2 separate regions of the Homo sapiens genome follow, and region 2 is linked to region 1. Evidence: fine-mapped expression QTL. A gene starts in region 1. The other region holds a variant in brackets. All regions are shown on one strand. Distances are from middle to middle. Region 1 holds the start of OBI1 (ORC ubiquitin ligase 1). Region 2 overlaps OBI1 (ORC ubiquitin ligase 1).

Region 1 (8,345 bases):
AGTCCATATGGCTTTTTTTCAAAGCAAATTACTTATGACAATTATGTACAAGGCTGGTTCTTAAATCCACTCTTGGGAACTGAGAGGCAATCAGGACTCAAACATGGGCTCCATGTACTGACGTGGATGACTTGCTGATCAATCAACAGCTCCAAGTGAACAGTGATTAATGAATTTTGTCATCCTAGAGTGAGGACTCTAAGTTGCATAAGGCTTTGTCTCTAGCCCTATATTTTCAATATTTTAAATAAACAATATGGGTGAGAAGAAGAGAGGCATCCCTGAAAGAAGGGATCCTTTTGATAGCATTCCTTATGGGAAACAGTCAGTCTACTAGAGGATACTCCAAGACACAGGAACTCCTGCATTATAAGGAAGCTGATTTCATTTCTGGTTATTTCAGCCAGAACACTTGCCCTTAATATTAAGTAGAAATCATAATTTTATGGAGCCACACAAGGCTTGAGTCCCTTCCAAATGAAAAATATTTTAATTAAAGATTCCCTATCATATCCATTCATTCCAGCACTATTCCAGTCCACCTACATTCCAATCCCAATTTCATTCTCCCCCAAATGTTTTCAAAATACTCTGGTTTATTGTTTATCTTAAAGGGTAGGACCCAAAACTGGACTCATAGTCGAATGAGAAATAACTGAATATGATACATTAATGCTGAAAAGCATTAGTTGCTTTGCATTTCTCTTGAGAATCTCCTTCACCCTTTCATAAAACCAACTGCGGGCCACATTTGGCTTTCACTCATGGCAAAATGCATGCACGGCCAATAAAAAGTATTACATGCCATAATTTGGTTTCACAGCTTGAGTCCCAATTGAAAAGATAAACCCTGGAATTATCTAGAGGTAAACTGGTTTGTAACAGCCTGGTGGCACTATCAAAATGTCACTTAACAGATACTCTGGGATAGATCATTACTACATTTCTGCTTGCTGGCCCACTAGTTTAAGAAACAAACAAACAAAAAAAAAACAGGGAAGAATAGGTAAGAAAATATGTTATGCGTAAATCATCCCATGGGATGGTACCTAACTTCTTCAGGCCACATAGAGCTCTTACTTACAATATTGGCAAAGTAACTAAAAACATTATTGGGTAGAGAAAATTCACCTTTAAAACTGAAGTAGAGACAGAGGTGTAAATTTTCCAATTTTAAGTGCAAAGACAAAGCATTAACAGGTGAATACCTGGGCTCTCTCTCCTTCCTCTCCATCCCCACTGGCATCTATCTCTTCAGATTTAATGCCCTGCCCTCATCTCTCCCCCTTCATGGTATCCACCTTGTGACCCTCCAGGGATAATGGTCCTTAATTCTGTTGAATAATCAAAAGAGAAGATGCTGACTGTGAGATCTGGGGACATATGGTAACAGTAGCACAAGAACAATTATCTTTAAAAAAGAGCTAGGCACGAAGGACCTTAGGAACATTCTTAGAAGTGGCCAGAGATGCTCTATGTCAGGGAAGCAGAAGCGAACCTGAGGACACGCCAGTTTTAGTATCTCACAGTATAATACGTGTAGGAGGGTGAGCAGCACAATCATACTGAATTTGCTTTCACTATAAAAAAGAAAAGAGACATGGAACCAGCTGAAAATTCTGGATGTACTGTGGCAATTTCCAGAACAAACAGGTCTCATTTGGTTGGGAATGCAAATCTTCATTTTGAAGTGCTCCAGCCTCACAAAGCAACTGGGAAGAACAATTACTGGAAAAGGCTGGTTTCCTCAGTTTGAGGGCTGGCCTCAATGGCTATAGTAAAAGCTAACAGTTATTAAACATTATGTGCCAGACTTTATGCTAAACTTTGCACATGCTTTGTTTAATCTTCTGAAAACTGAAAGGATGGGGAGTTGATGTTATTACCATATTTTTACTGTTACAGATAAGGAAACAGGCTCAAAAGAGTTAAGTAACTTAAGCTGGGAGTGGTGGCTCACGCTTGTAATCCCAGCACTTTGGGAGGCCGAGGCGGGCAGATCACCTAGTTCGGGAGTTCAAGACCAGCCTGACCAACATGGAGAAACCCCGTCTCTACCAAAAATACAAAATTTGCCGGGCGTGGTGGCGCATGCCTGTAATCCCAGCTACTCAGGAGGCTGAGGCAGGAGAATTGCTTGAACCCGGGAGGCGGAGGTTGCGGTGAGCCGAGATCGCGCCATTGCTCTCCAGCCCGGGCAACAAGAGCGAAACTCCGTCTCAGAAAAAAAGAAAAAAAAAAGAAAAAAAGTTAAGTAACTTGTAAAAGGTTGTATGAGTGGTAAGTGGTAGATTAGATTAGAACCCGGCTAGCCTGAATGTAGAACTCAGGCCCTCAGTCACATATCCTTTCTGCTTCCATGGTACCTGGGGGGGGGGGGGGAGGAGCCTGTTTAAAAATCCTTAATTAATTAATTTTCTTTTATTTTTAATTTTTTTTTTTTTTTTTTTTTTGAGACAAAGTCTCACTCTTGTTGCCCAGGCTGGAGTGCAATGGCGCGATCTCAGCTCACTACAACCTCCGCCTCCCAGGTTCAAGCAATTCTCCTGCCTCAACTGGGATTACAGGCGCCTGCCACCACACCCAGCAAATTTTGTATTTTTAGTAGCGATGGGGTTTCACCATATTGGCCATGCTGGTCTCAAACTCCTGACCTCAGGCGATCTGCCCGCCTCGGCCTCCCAAAGTGCTGGGATTACAGGCGTGAGCCACCGCGCCTGGCTTAACCTTTTTGAGCCTGTTTCCTTATCTGTAACAGTAGAAATATGGTAATAACATCAACTCCCCATCCTTTCTGTTTTCAGAAGATTAAATGAAGCATGTGCAAAGTTTAGCATAAAGTCTGGCACATAAGATTAAGACAAAAGTCTTAATCTTTTTATTTTTATTATCTGATTTTTATTTCAGAATAAAGTTAACCAATACAGGAAAAAAAAAACACTAAAAATGCCTGATGTCATGGATGAACTTAGGTGAGGGTTTTACGAAGTAATCTGAAGACAAATGGTAATAATGATAGAGGTTCAACTATGAAGACTCAAAGTCTTAGTATTCTGAAGACACAAATGATAGTATAGAGGTTCAACCACAGACTCTAAGCTTTAATATTCTTATTTTAAAAATGGAAAAACCAGCCCTATCTTAAAGCATTGGTGTGAAGAGTAAACAAAATAATATATGCATACAAAAGCACTCTGTAGTCTGCAAATCACTATATTCTATGAGGTATCACTCTCGTTAAATACAAAAAGTATAGGTTTGGTAAATCAAACAGAACACTGTCAATACAATTGCAAAAGACAGCCTATAACTAATGGAAACTATATATAATGTGTACAAAATACTTCCCAAGAATATTTTTATCAGCCTTTAAAGCCAGTGTTGGAGGAAATTAACTCAGAATTTAACACATATTTCCAGGAACTTTATGTCAGGAGCCAAATGTAGACTGTGGCAAATAGAAACATCGCTTCTTCCCTCCCCCTAGCCGTGCAGGCAGTAAGTAATAGCTCAATGCCAGCTCAAACACCATCCTCGATGAGGCCATCCTTGATCTCTCCAAATTGATCAAGCCATCCCCAATCCATGATCTCCCAGCACATTTGCTATTTCATTGGCATTTCATTCTGACTGCTATCCAGAATTATCAGTTGCTTCCAATGCTGACTTTCTTCTACTTTTTGAATCCAGTAAATTCACACAGAACTTCAAACACCCCAGGCAGATCGTATTGGCCGGCACTCAAATGCTTGCTCTAGAAGTTTGTATTTCTCAAATCTGAGTCTACGGCTCAGTCTGCGCTGGGGGGTAAACACACACCCTGACACACCACAGACGTAAAAATAATTCAGGGTGGAAAAAAGTTGGTGGTTTATCTTTCCCCTTCTTTATCTATTCGGTAAAGAAATGCTCTTTAAAACACCGAAAGTGAGGCACAAATGGAAATGAAAGAGGAGAGGAATGCATTAGAATATTCAAAGCTCCGTTTCTAATTCAGAACCACTTTCCCTACCTTGTTTCACAAACACACTAGGCACCTCTTGCATCACAAAGAGAGAGTATTCTATCTCCTGACTGACCCATTCTTGGAGTTAAAAGCCACACCTCTTATTCTAATACCCTCCAGGAGCACTTACTATTTACTTTTCAAATTAGGAATTCAGAGCAAAGGTCATCCTCAAGGCCAGGATAAAGGCAAAAGGTCTTGGAAATGGAAAAGACTCAATACACAGCACCGTAGGCCCCAGAGGATGAACACTAGTTACAGAGGACTAAGAAGCCCGAGGTGAGGCTCCCAGGAAATGTGTTTTAATGGGCTTCACTACACGCCACGCGAGGCTGCAGAGGGAAGTTAAATATCCCTGCGATGCGTTTCTGATGGGGCCTCCTTCGAGGCCGGTGTCTTGCCAGTGTGAGGCCGCGGGCGGTGGCAGGGCCGTCTCGCCGCCCTCCCGGCAGACCACGGGCCGCTGTCACCCTCCTCCGAAAGGCGCCCAGATGAATCCATTAATCACGGTGCGCTACCCCCATCTCCCAGGACGCGGCCTCCCATCAAGAACGCGGGTTAGCGTTTTCTCCCATCTCCGCGCCTCACGCCCCTTCCCCGCCCCCGCACGAGACGGCCCTCGGCCCCGGCGAGCGACTTATCCAACCCCGTTTTGTAGCTGTGCCCACAATCACCCATTACCTTCCCCAAGCAAATGTGGCACGTGATGGGCAGAGTGAGCGACAATGTAACATTCTGCACGGTCTGAGCCATGGCAGCGTTCAGAATCCCGCCAACACGGAAGTCCCGCCGACCTACCGCTACTCTTCGCCAAGACTGGGCACGCGCGGGCCGGCTACGGCGCCCCGGTAGGGCCATAACCCGCCCAGGAGAGAAAACGAAAACGCGCTTTCGAAACGCGCGATCTCCAAGGCGTTTTCCTTTCATTAAAAAAAAAAAAAAAAAAAAGAAAGAAAGAAAGAAAGAAAGAAAATTCACTGATTAGGGAGCTGCAAGATTCCTGCGAATGTGTAGGAAGGTAGTTTACTACAAGTATCGAGGATCTTGGAAAATCTAAAGGAAAGCGGAATAGTGGAGACAGAAGAGGAAGATACGGAAAGGCGATTTTTTAAATCCCCAAATTGTTTTCGGGGATTGGATGGGGTGAAGGATGGAGAGTTTTTCGCCTAATTATTAAACCCCACACATCCGCCAACACAGCGTAATCAAAACATAGAGAAAAGACATTATCTACACGTTTCAATTTTTTTCAAAACAGCTTTCCACCTCTGTCAGTTCTCTTTCCACTCAATATAATGTGCTTCCAGAGGGCACAATAATTCACTTAAGAAAACAGTGATTGTCTCCTTATCTGTGTCCGAGACGATCCTGATACATTTAATCGCAGCTTTCCCTGAAAATACATTTTTACTGTGGGCTTCTCTGGGTTTTCCACCAAAAGGAGATTAACGTTTTCACGTCTTCATTTCAGGTGCATGGTTGCATATGAAATGTACCGCTGTGTTGTTGAACCCCAAGGGAGAATTTGTGAGGTTATAAGTTGCGTTTCCTACCAACAAAAAAGAAAAAAACCTAAAAGTTCCTAAATTTATCTTAAATGCAGTATAACAAATTTGGAATTTATCTGCAACTTACTTGAAGCGAGGAAGAGCTGATGTGATAAATTACGCTAACAAGTAAAATCTGTGAGTTGAGAGATTTAAAGACAAGACCATCGGGACAACTTTTACTAATCTTTGTGAAAAAGACGCAGTATGACTTCAAGAAGCAGCCTCATGGTTAAGAGAAAGGGGTTCTGGACCTGGGCTGCTTCAGCGGAAATCCCTGCCCCCAACAACTTCCTACCTAAACGGTAGCTCCATGGCTTCTGGCAACTTTTGTTTTGTTTTTTGAGATAGGGTCTAGCTCTGTCACCACTAGGTGCCAACACAGCGACCTCCCAGGCTCAAGCGATCCCATCCGCCTGCCTCAGCCAGCCTCCCGAGTAGCTGGGATTACAGTCATGCGCCACCATGCTTGGCTAATTTTTGTATTTTTAGTAAAGACGGAGTTTCACCCTGTTGGTCAGGCTGGTCTCCAACTCCTGACCTCAAGTGATCCGCCTGCCTCGAGGGTCGGGGAGTGGTTTCCCCATGTTGCCCAGGCTGGTCTTGAGCTCCTGGGCTCAATGGATCCCCCCTCCTTGACCTACCGACAGTGCTGGGATTACAGCCGTGAGCACTATTCTGCACTCTACTTCTGTGAGATCAACTTTATTAGATTGTACATGTGAGATCATGTGGTAATTGTCTTTCTGTGTCTGGCTTGTTTCACTCAACACAGCGTCCTCCAGGTTCAACCATGCCGTTGCAAATGACAGGATTTTATTATTTTTTATGGCTCAATAGTATTCTATTGTAAAGACATTTCTTTTCAAAACATTTCCCATTACTTAATGGGGCAAGTTCATTTCCTTGTAAATCATCTTGTTGATGGGTGTCAATATGTAGTCACAAAGATAATTTTAAAAATCATATCCTGCATTTTAAGTAAAGTATTAAAATTTAGACTATCTCTAACATCTCTTTCCACATTTCATACCATTGTCACAGCTTCTCAGTGTTTCAGTGCACAGTCCATACAGCCATTTCTGTGCTGATGACATTGTATTATAGTTGGTGATGTGTTTGTCCCCACAACAGGCTATGTTTCTTGAGGTCAGGGATTGCATCCAATTTATCTAATGTCTGTAATAGGTTACTGTTCCACAAATAGTAATATTCTCATTTGCTACAGCCTACCTTTATAATAAACTCAGGCTGTTTTATTTTAAACAATTTCTTTACTTGTTTTTAATCTCAAAATGGAAGATTCTATTGCTTTTTGAGAATTATAAAAATAACACATGCTCATTTTAAGAAAAACAAGCCATTAAAAAGTATATAAAATAAGTAAAAGTTCCTCCATATTTCTGCCTCACCTCTGTATCCAGTGTAGAAATCACTATTAACATTCTAGAACATATCCTTAAAACATACTAATTCATCTATTACTGTATACATAAGCACAAACAAGGTCATAGCATAACATACCTGCTTTATTCACTTAATGTTTTATGAATCAATACACATATGCCCTCACACATGCACACACATATCCAAATAATATTGTTAGCAATATAGATTGATTAGGACTCTTCCTCAGTCCAGATGAATGCCAGGCTAGTTCCCAGGCTTTGCTTTTAATAATGCAAGTGGCTTAAGGTCAGGAATTATCTCTTCTCTGCTCTGTGAAGGACATTTCCCATTTTTTGACAATTCATGTTCTAAATAGATGTCGTTTGGCCCAAATCACTAAAAGATCCTACCATTACCCTAATAGGAAAACAAAAATTATGTGGTTCACTGCTGCTTAATTTTGATCACCACATCTTGGTAGCTTTTTGAGCAGCCCTGTGATCTGATGAGTTCTATTACATTTGACATCTGGAATGGGCTAAAGCTGTCCTACATCCTTAGAATTATAAACATTTAGAGCTAAAATGGCTCTTAGGGGTTGTTATGCAGGCCTTTCCTTTCACAGATGAGGAAATCAAGGCCTACATAAGGTAAATCACCAGATAACAGTAGAATTGGGGCTAAATCCTAGATCACATTTGCTGGACTCTCTGAGAATGTTGGCCCAATGCCTTTGTGTAAGTGCAAGATGTATTATTATTAATAAAGTGTCTCAGTAATAAAAAGTCAGTCATAATTGAATTTCTTTGCTAAGAAAACCATCAAATAGCTATGGAACACCTTTTACCCCATGTTTAAATCAGATTCATTTTGATGATAAATTATTTAAAAGCAAGTTTAAAAAAATATAAAATCTTAAGTGCTATTAAAAATTGATTAGGAATGCATTATTCTTTCATTGACCCAGTTTGGATTGTTTTTTAATTTTTTTGGTCAAAGCTAATAAATTTGAGTAGATGTTTCAGACAGACATTTTGTAATCATTTGGTCATCAGTCAATTAATCACAACTTCATAAATATTGATTTCAGCTTACATTATTTTTCATTCCTGAAAGACTTTTTTTTGTTTGTTTTAAATTTGTACACCCCACCTGGATTGTGGTTAACACTGAGGAAACTCATAAAGATACATTAAAAATTAATCAGGGGTGCTGGCCCAGTAGCATGAATGTCAGGTATGGTACCGTCCTCTCACAGGCTGGGAATTCTGAACTAAGGTGTCTCAAGATGTTGGCATGAAAGATACTTGTTAGTGCAGCAGAAAACTTGGGTTTCTCTTAAACAGTGGGTTTCGGTTTTGGTTTTGATTTTTTAGAATAGATTGACACATGTTGTCTGCTTT
Region 2 (8,345 bases), 31 kb before region 1:
AATGTAGACTAGATTTTTCTAGGCAAAATGTGTATACAGAGTCAATGAACTAGGATTCTTGTGCTATTTATTGGTACATACATTGGCTAATAGAAACACAGAGGAAATACAAAAATTGTAGGAAGACATATAGTATGTATGCACAAATTCAGTAAACATTTATCAAACCACCACCATATTTTAGGCATAAATCCAGTAATATTTTGAAATTTTAAAAGATCATTTATTAAAGTGGCCTTGCATGAAAGTACAGCATTGACAGACCACCCTGGTAAATGCCAACCCAAATATTTAACCAGAGATATAAAGACTAAGTTTGAAACAGAGCTGAAAGCATAATACTTAAATGTGCTATGTATAGAAAGTATGTATGATAAACTTGCCTGGTTCATGCACAATCAGCAGGTATCTTCAACTACAAGTAAAAGATGTTTTTTATATGAAATGAGAAAAACTAAATGCAAAATTTTAAGGCCTAAACATCACATGGGTTATTTCTCAGGGTATAATTAAGAGAAATAAAAAAATACAAGCTACGTTATGTTGCATCTTAGTTTTATCACAAAACAGAAAGTGTTCCAATATTTGCAAGAATAAAAAATGCCAGAATTTCACCCTTAAAGACAAAGTTGATAAAGACAGGGGAACAAGACAAAGAATTATGCCCTTGCAGTAATTCCTTATCCCTCCATCTTCTAAAAGTACCATTTAAAAATCAAAGTAGAGTTTGCTTTTCAAGTTTTCAAATGAAGAGCAGGGTTAATAATTAATAGCTTATATTATTAACACTATATTATTCATTTATTTTTGAGACAGGATCTCATCCTGTCACCCAGACTGGAGGACTGGAGTACAGTGGCATGATCACGGCTCACTGCAGAACAAAATTTTAAAGGAAATTCTTTGTGTGTTTATCTTATTAAACCAACTATGCATTTGTAGTTAAAAAACTGTGGTGAAAATTCTGAGATGCCTTAGAAATTAATAAAAATGACCTGAGTGTTGAACAGCATATGTGAACTGAAGAGGAACAGACAGCTCCCTTTTGTGGTAAACCTCTAAGGGCTGACCCACATAGTATTGGGTCAGCAGGTGGATAAGGAGAAATACAGAACTAAACTGTGTTCCATGCTGGCCAATTTCACCCTACTTGCTTCTGTGGCAATTGGAACATGGTCTCTGGCCTTCTGTTTGGAAACTGCAACTAGTTAGCCTCCATTTCCAAGGTTTCTTTCCTTCTCTCTGGGCAGCACACTGGGCAAAGTTGCCCAAAACAGGATGCCTAACTCTAAGTACTACTTTCTCTGCATTGCCTGTGAGGACAGACTACTCTTTTTACTGTGGAATAAATTCTATTCTATTTGACAAATATATCTCATTTTGATTCCATGCAGAAATGCCCTCATTTTCTCCCCTCTGCTCCCTTCAACCAACCAAGATCAGCCTTGAAATTTGCAGGACATTAACAGGGATCCTAATCTGTCATGGAAAGGAGAGAAAATTAAGACATGCTATTTCATATCTTTTTATTTCTAAGAGAAATTAAAGGACTTACATCTTTTCCCAAAATAAAATAACCTTAACAACAAAATCTCAATACTGTAAAAGAGTGCAACTACTGTTGAGTGATAAAAAATATACTTAAAAATCTCTGGATTAGTATCTACCTGTCTATACATTTTCCACCTTAACTAAATGATCTCTTATTCTCTCTCAGCATGAAACAAAATCTAAAAGAAAACGAAACACAACAAAAAACTGATCTAGATACCCTGTAATTATTACTCAGATGACAGTTATTGAGGACTAATGTGTGCTCAGGGGCTATGAAGAAGGAAAACAAAGGAAGTAGAAGTGATCATTCCTCTTCTCAAACAGTTCATAATCTCTCTGACAACCTTACTGCTTAGTCATTAGCATGCACTGCCGCCTCCCCAAGTACCTTATCAATACAATAAAGACAAACTGACAGAAAACTGCAGTACCTGTCTATCCCCAATTAAGTGAATATCCAGAGAAGGGTCCCTCAGGCAGCCAAGGGGCCTGAGCACAACTGGCTGTCACAGTCTGGCCCCAGGGTATCATCAGGCTCCCCTGACAGTCTACAAGTTCCCCTTCCGGGAAAACCAAAGGCATAGCAGAATCAGTCATTGGATCAGGCTAGGGTCAAATACTAGGAAATCACCACATTTGTCAGAGAAGAATCGTGATAAACAAAAAAGGCCAGAATAGGTCAAGAAGGGACAACAGCAAGAGCCAGCCAGACCAGCAGTGTTGATGAGGAACCAAAAGGTTAGAGCATTACTAGCACATCTTGAGACATAGTTTAGAAAGAGCAGACCTGTGAAATGGAACTAACTGCACAGCTCAGAGTCAGCATGGAGACAGGTAAAGGAAGGAAAATCTGATTCAAGTAAATAGATGCGGACAAGAAACTCAAGACTATAGCCAGGCAAGTCCCTACTATCACCTCCTCTGTTTCTCTTTCTAACTCTGAATCTCTGGCATAACTTAAAGAGGAAAGCTTCCAGAAATCCTTTGCTCTAATGTGGAGAAAGTTCCAGGAATCTCTGATTTCCTGTTTTCTTACATCCTTTGTACTTTAAGCTTCAAGTATTAAAGTATAAGGACTCTTTCCTTCTGTAAGACTCCATAAAAGGAAGATACACACACATATATACGTATTTTGTACAAATACACAAATGTGCATTTAAAAAATATGTCTTGGTGCCAAGGAGCTGCCAGATTAACTGGGTACGACAGTCATGGAAATGATCAACATACAACACGATCATTAAAACAACAGGGTAGAAGAAGAGTAATCAAAAGTACAAGAGGAAAATGCTACCTCTGTCTAGGAAAATTAGGGAGGGCCTCACATATAAACCAACAACTGGGCTAGATCTCAAAGGACAGACAGGGATTAACCAGGAAGAATAAAAACAAGAGAAGCTAATGTGGAGAACCAGGGAAAATACAGTATGATGAATGTGGGCCCAATGAGAAATTCAGCATAGCCAGAGCAGAGCACAAGAAGCGAGGGGCTAGAGAAGAGGCAAGGATATTAAACTGAAGTTATATAGTAAAGACCCTTTTATACTAGACCAAGAATATTGGGGCCAGGCGTGGTGGCTCACACCTGTAATCCCAGACTTTGGGAGGCCAAGGCAGGCGGATCATGAGGTCAGGAGATCGAGACCATCCTGGCTAACACAGTGAAACCCCATCTCTACTAAAAATACAAAAAATTAGCCGGGCATGGTGGCGGGCGCCTGTAGTCCCAGCTACTCAGGAGGCTGAGGCAGGAGAATAGCATGAACCCAGGGGGCGGAGCTTGCAGTGAACTGAGATGGTGCCACTGCACTCCAGCCTGGGCGACAGCACAGGAAAGAAAGGTAAGCAGTAGAAAGGCTGTTACAACAGGCTAGGCAAGAAATAATATGGATCTAAACTAGTGAAAATGAGAAGATGGATTACAGAGGCATTTTAAAAAGGTAGGCTATAGAGAACATACTAAAGTACTAAAGTCATTAAGAAGGACAGGAACAAAGCGGATCTTTTGCATGGGATGGGGGATTATGAATATGATTTTTTAGACATACACATTCCCCCATCCCACCTCTACCTGTTTTATTTATTCTAAAAAAAAAAAAAAAAAAAAGGATACATGTGCAGAACATTCAGGTTTATTACATAGGTATACGTGTGCCATGGTGGTTTGCTGCACCTACTGACCCATCCTCTAAATTCCCTCCCCTCAGCCCCCACCCCTTAA[C/CA]GGCCCTGGTGGGTGCTGTTCCCTTCTCTGTGTCCATGTGCTCTCAATGTTCAATTTCCACTTATAAGTGAGAACATGTGATGTTTAGTTTTCTGTTCCTGTGCTAGTTTGCTGAGGATAATGGCTTCCAATTTCACCCATGTTCCTCCAAAGGACATGATCTCATTCCTTTTTATGGCTGCATAGCATTCCATGCTGTATATGTACCACATTTTCTTTACCCAGTCTATCACTGATGGTCATCTGGGTTGGTTCCATGTCTTTGCTATTGTAAATAGTTCTGCAATAAACATATGCAAGCATGTATCTTTATAGAAGATTTATATTATTTTGTCTTCCCATTCTTTATACGACACATCATGTCAAGGTAATAGATTTCCTTTAATCCTCATAATAACGCACCCTCATTTTATGTTAAAAAAAGACTTCAAGGTTAATTTATCCAATGTTATTTACTTGTTTATTCATTCAATTATTCAAAAAATATTTATCAGGTATCTTCAGATACTGGGGGCTTTGGAAATGAAGGGGATAGGCAGCAAGGAGCTTAGAGTTTAAAATGGAGCTTAGAGTTTAGAATGGAGGAGACAGACAACAAACAGGCCACGCAATTAAATGAACAAGACAATTTCAGACAGTGATAATGGCTGTGAAGACAATACTATAATATTAATTGCTAACTATGGACTCTGTTAAAAGGGTATTTTAAGTTTCATTTAACTCTTACTATTACTTACAAGATAGGTAGTACTATTAACCCTACTGCACAGAAGACAAAAACTGAGATACAGAAAGGTTAAATATCTTTGTCTAAATCACAGAGCTAGTAAGTAGGCAAGATTAGTGTTCGGTCATATGGAGTCTGGCTCCAAGGTTTGTGTTCACAATCACCATGCTCTACTGTTTTACCCAACCATGATTTTATTATTATGGTCTTCTGTTAAGGCAGTAGAAGGTGCTGAGTGAAAGGGCTGCTTTAGATTGAATGATCAGAAAAGGCTTCCCTTCATCTGAGGATTGAAGGAGACAGCCATGTAAAGATCTGCAAGGAGAGTATTCTAAGCAAAGGAAATAAACACAGCATGTTTTAGAAACAAAGTCTAGTAGAACTGGAGTAGGATGAGATGGAGGAGTTAAGAATTAGACGAAGAAGAGGTGGCAGATGCAGACTAGCCAGTGAAGAGTCTGGATTTTATTCTAGGAAAACACTGAATAGTTTTAAGCAGGAGATTTAAATAATTTTATATGTACTTTATTAAAAGACAGTTTTGAGTATGGTGAAAAATGAATTGGGTAGGGAAAGGACGGACAAAATGGAAGAAGGGAAATTTGAATCCAGGAAGTCTGATTCCAGAGTTAAGCTCTTAACCACCGTGCTCTGTGGTTAATTTGAGGTATAGAATCTCTGGTAAAGGCACAAAAAAGATAGATGAAAACATGAACCTGCAGTTCAGGAGAGAATGTGAGGTCAAAGATTTTGATTTTGTTTTATAATCTCTGACACATAGGCAGACAATTATTAAAGCCCTAAGCTAACTGATTTTAAATTTCATTTCTGATGGCTCAAAAAATACAAATAGAGCAAAAAAGGAAGCAAGCCCAGGTCACAATCAATGAAGTCTATTCCTTCCTCTTCAGAACACTTCTTTTCATATCTTAATAACAGAAAATATTACTTACTGCCCAGAGTATCTAGAGCCTTTATCCTCCCCCAAAAGGAGCTGAGGCATTGCTGAAGACTTGTCCATAATGACAAGCCTTGGGGTTGCTGTACAGTAAAATGAACTGCACTCAGGGAGACATTATCAAACCCATAGATCTCACTAAAGACACAATGACAGAACACATAACATTCCTGCATACATATTTATAGAAAGAAAAGCCATTAATTCAATTATAACCAAGTTTGATATAAATGACCTAATAGTATATCCCATACTATTAAGGTGAGTTAGTAGCTGAGGACAAAAATACCTGCTCTACTAAATCCTCATAATAGTTGGTGACATAGCATGATCCCTGCCTCAAGTGGCTAGAGAAAAAAAAAGTGGCACAACTGAACAGAGACATGGAGAGAGGGCACAGAACTTTCAAATGCTTTACAAGTCAATTCTTCACATCTCTTCAAGTTAAAAAAGTCACTAAGGAACTTCTAACTCTACCAAGGATAAGTATATCCACATAGCTTGGCACAGTTTAGGAGTAGTAATTAAAGTCAAGGGAATTTAGGAATATGAGAAATCCAGTACTTAAGTGTTCCCTTCAGCTTCTTCCCTTTCTTGATGTTTCTTACCATGTGGGGATGTGACACGCTTCACATTCCCCACTAAATATTCAGACTGAGAACAGGCCCTTCTGCTTAGAGTAGAAAGTGGTGGATGTAGTGGAGTCATGCTACCAAACTATAAAAATAGAGGGATGATGGTCACAGTAGAGAGATGTAAAAATTACATGGACTTTTGCTCTGGTAAATTTGAGAAGAAAGCTAGTGTGCTTACTGAGTAGTACCACGATATGTGGCTACTACTACTGGAGAAAAAGGACTGGGGCTGAAGGGACCGCTTAGTACTCCTAACAGCACATGCTGTTTTCTCTCACTCAGAATGCCTTTCTCCTCCCTGAAATCTCCATCCTTCAAAGCTGGGCTTAAGTTCTTTTTGATAAAGATCTTCCTTATCCCTGCAACCTAACCATCATTCTCTGAACCCATACTGCTGTCTCTATTATTTGGCTTAGTATCTGTTAAGCATTTGTTTCATATATTTTCATGTCATGCCTTCATTAACTACTTTTCTGGAAGCAGGGACCATGTTTTGCTGGGGTTTTTTTCCTTAATATAAACAATTCTAACCATTCACAGAAGTAGGGAGAACATAATAAACTCCCATTTACTCATAACACATATTCAACAATTATCAAGATTTTTGTCTTATTTCCTTTGTATTATATCCTTTGCCTTTTGCCAAAGTATTCTATAGTTCATGTTTTAGGATGCATTTCCAAAAGAAAATATGGTGCCATAGACTAAATGTTTGTGTCCCCCATAAATTCTTATGTTGAAACCTAATCCCTAAAGTGATGGTATTTGGGGCAGGGCCAATAGGAGGTGATGGTATAATATTTAAAGGTAAGGGCTTCTGGGGCCTATAGGTCAAAAGGTTCAAGCCCTCATAAGTGAGATTAATGCCCTTAAAAAGATGTCCCACAAAGCTCCTTTGTCCTTTCTGCCATTCGAGGATACAGCAAAAAGACACAGCTGTCTATGAAGCAGGAAGTGGGCCTCACTAGACCAGCTGGCACCTTGATCTTGGACTTCTAAGCCTCCAGAACTGTAAGAAATAAATTTCTGTTGCTTATAAGCCAATCAGTTTAGGGTATTTTGTTATAGCAGCCCAAAAGGACTAACATAAATGGTGTTTTCTTAAGTAATCATGATACCTAAACAAAATTAAGAGTGATTCCTTGCTATTATTTCATTTAATACTTGCTTCATATTCAAATTTACCCAGCTGCCTCTAAAATATCTTTCAACAGTTTGTTACTAATCAGTATGCTAACAAGTCCACATTGCATTTGGTTATTATGTTTCATAGTTCTTTTTTACTGTAAAGCAGCACCCTCCCTCAATGACTTAATGAAGAAACCTAGTCATTTTTCCTATTGAGTATCCCACATTCTGGATTTGTCTGTATGTTTCCTCAGTCATAGGAGTTATGCTTTTTTCATTCATTTACTCAATAGATACGTAGTAGGAGCAGCATGGGAGCCAGAATCCTATAAAATGCAGTGGTTGCAATAGTGACTACATATTATAGCCCTTGCTCAAACAGAACAAAGTCATAAAACAATTACACAAAGTGTTAATTATTAGCAGTTGTGACATTTGCTAAGGGAAAGTACAAGTAATAAGAAATCACAGCAAGGGAACCCAACCTTCTTTAGGGGTCAGAGAGAGTATTTATTTTGTTCCAAGCATCTAGCACAATGTTAAGTAAGAAAAAATTCATTATTTCTGGGTTGGCAAGTGGAGTAAGTCTTCTTCACATATTACTCTTGTAAACTTAAAGGTCATATCACCACCCCTTGAGCTCTGAAGATCAAATCCAAATCTCTTAGGAGTCCAAGTTAGGGGAAACTGAAGGGCCAAACAGGTGGTTTCCTCCAGGTGAAATAAATTCAGAAGCATAATAAGGATTCAGAAAGTGGCTAAATAAAGCCAAAGGAAAAGACTGCATTTTCTGGACAACGAGTTTGGATATTAGGACAAATGAATTTTTGGCAAGGAACAGGATGAATATTATTGAAACCTAGAAGAACATGCTTAGTAGGCTATCTGCCACATTGCTCAAGAGGGCTTTTAAGTTAAAATTGAGGAAGGAAAAATGTCCAGGTACAGTATAGCAGAGGAGACAAATGATAACCAACACCTTCATTTTAAAAGATTATGGTATTGTTTTTAAAAGATTGTATGTAAAATATATTCGTTTTTATACAATACCATGTTCTTGAGACCAATGTAAATCTCCTTTGTTCGTACCAGATTTTAGTCAAGTTTTTGGAAAATAGCATG

The links. PIP is the estimated chance that this variant, and not a neighbour inherited with it, causes the effect.
Region 2: its variant is fine-mapped to the expression of OBI1 in whole blood (TOPMed, PIP 0.99).

What each region holds. Positions count from the first base shown.
Region 1 is chr13:78,654,362-78,662,706 of GRCh38, forward strand. OBI1 (ORC ubiquitin ligase 1) reads right to left here and starts at 4,794. Exons shown (of 6, transcript NM_024546.4): 1 at 4,688-4,794. The coding sequence starts at 4,759. RefSeq lists enhancers at 3,202-4,162, 4,073-4,152.
Region 2 is chr13:78,623,669-78,632,013 of GRCh38, forward strand. The region is part of intron 5 of OBI1 (ORC ubiquitin ligase 1); the gene reads right to left. Among named protein-coding and RNA genes, the nearest start is that of POU4F1, 24 kb to the left of the region's middle. The variant C/CA (reference allele first, on the strand shown) is at 3,776.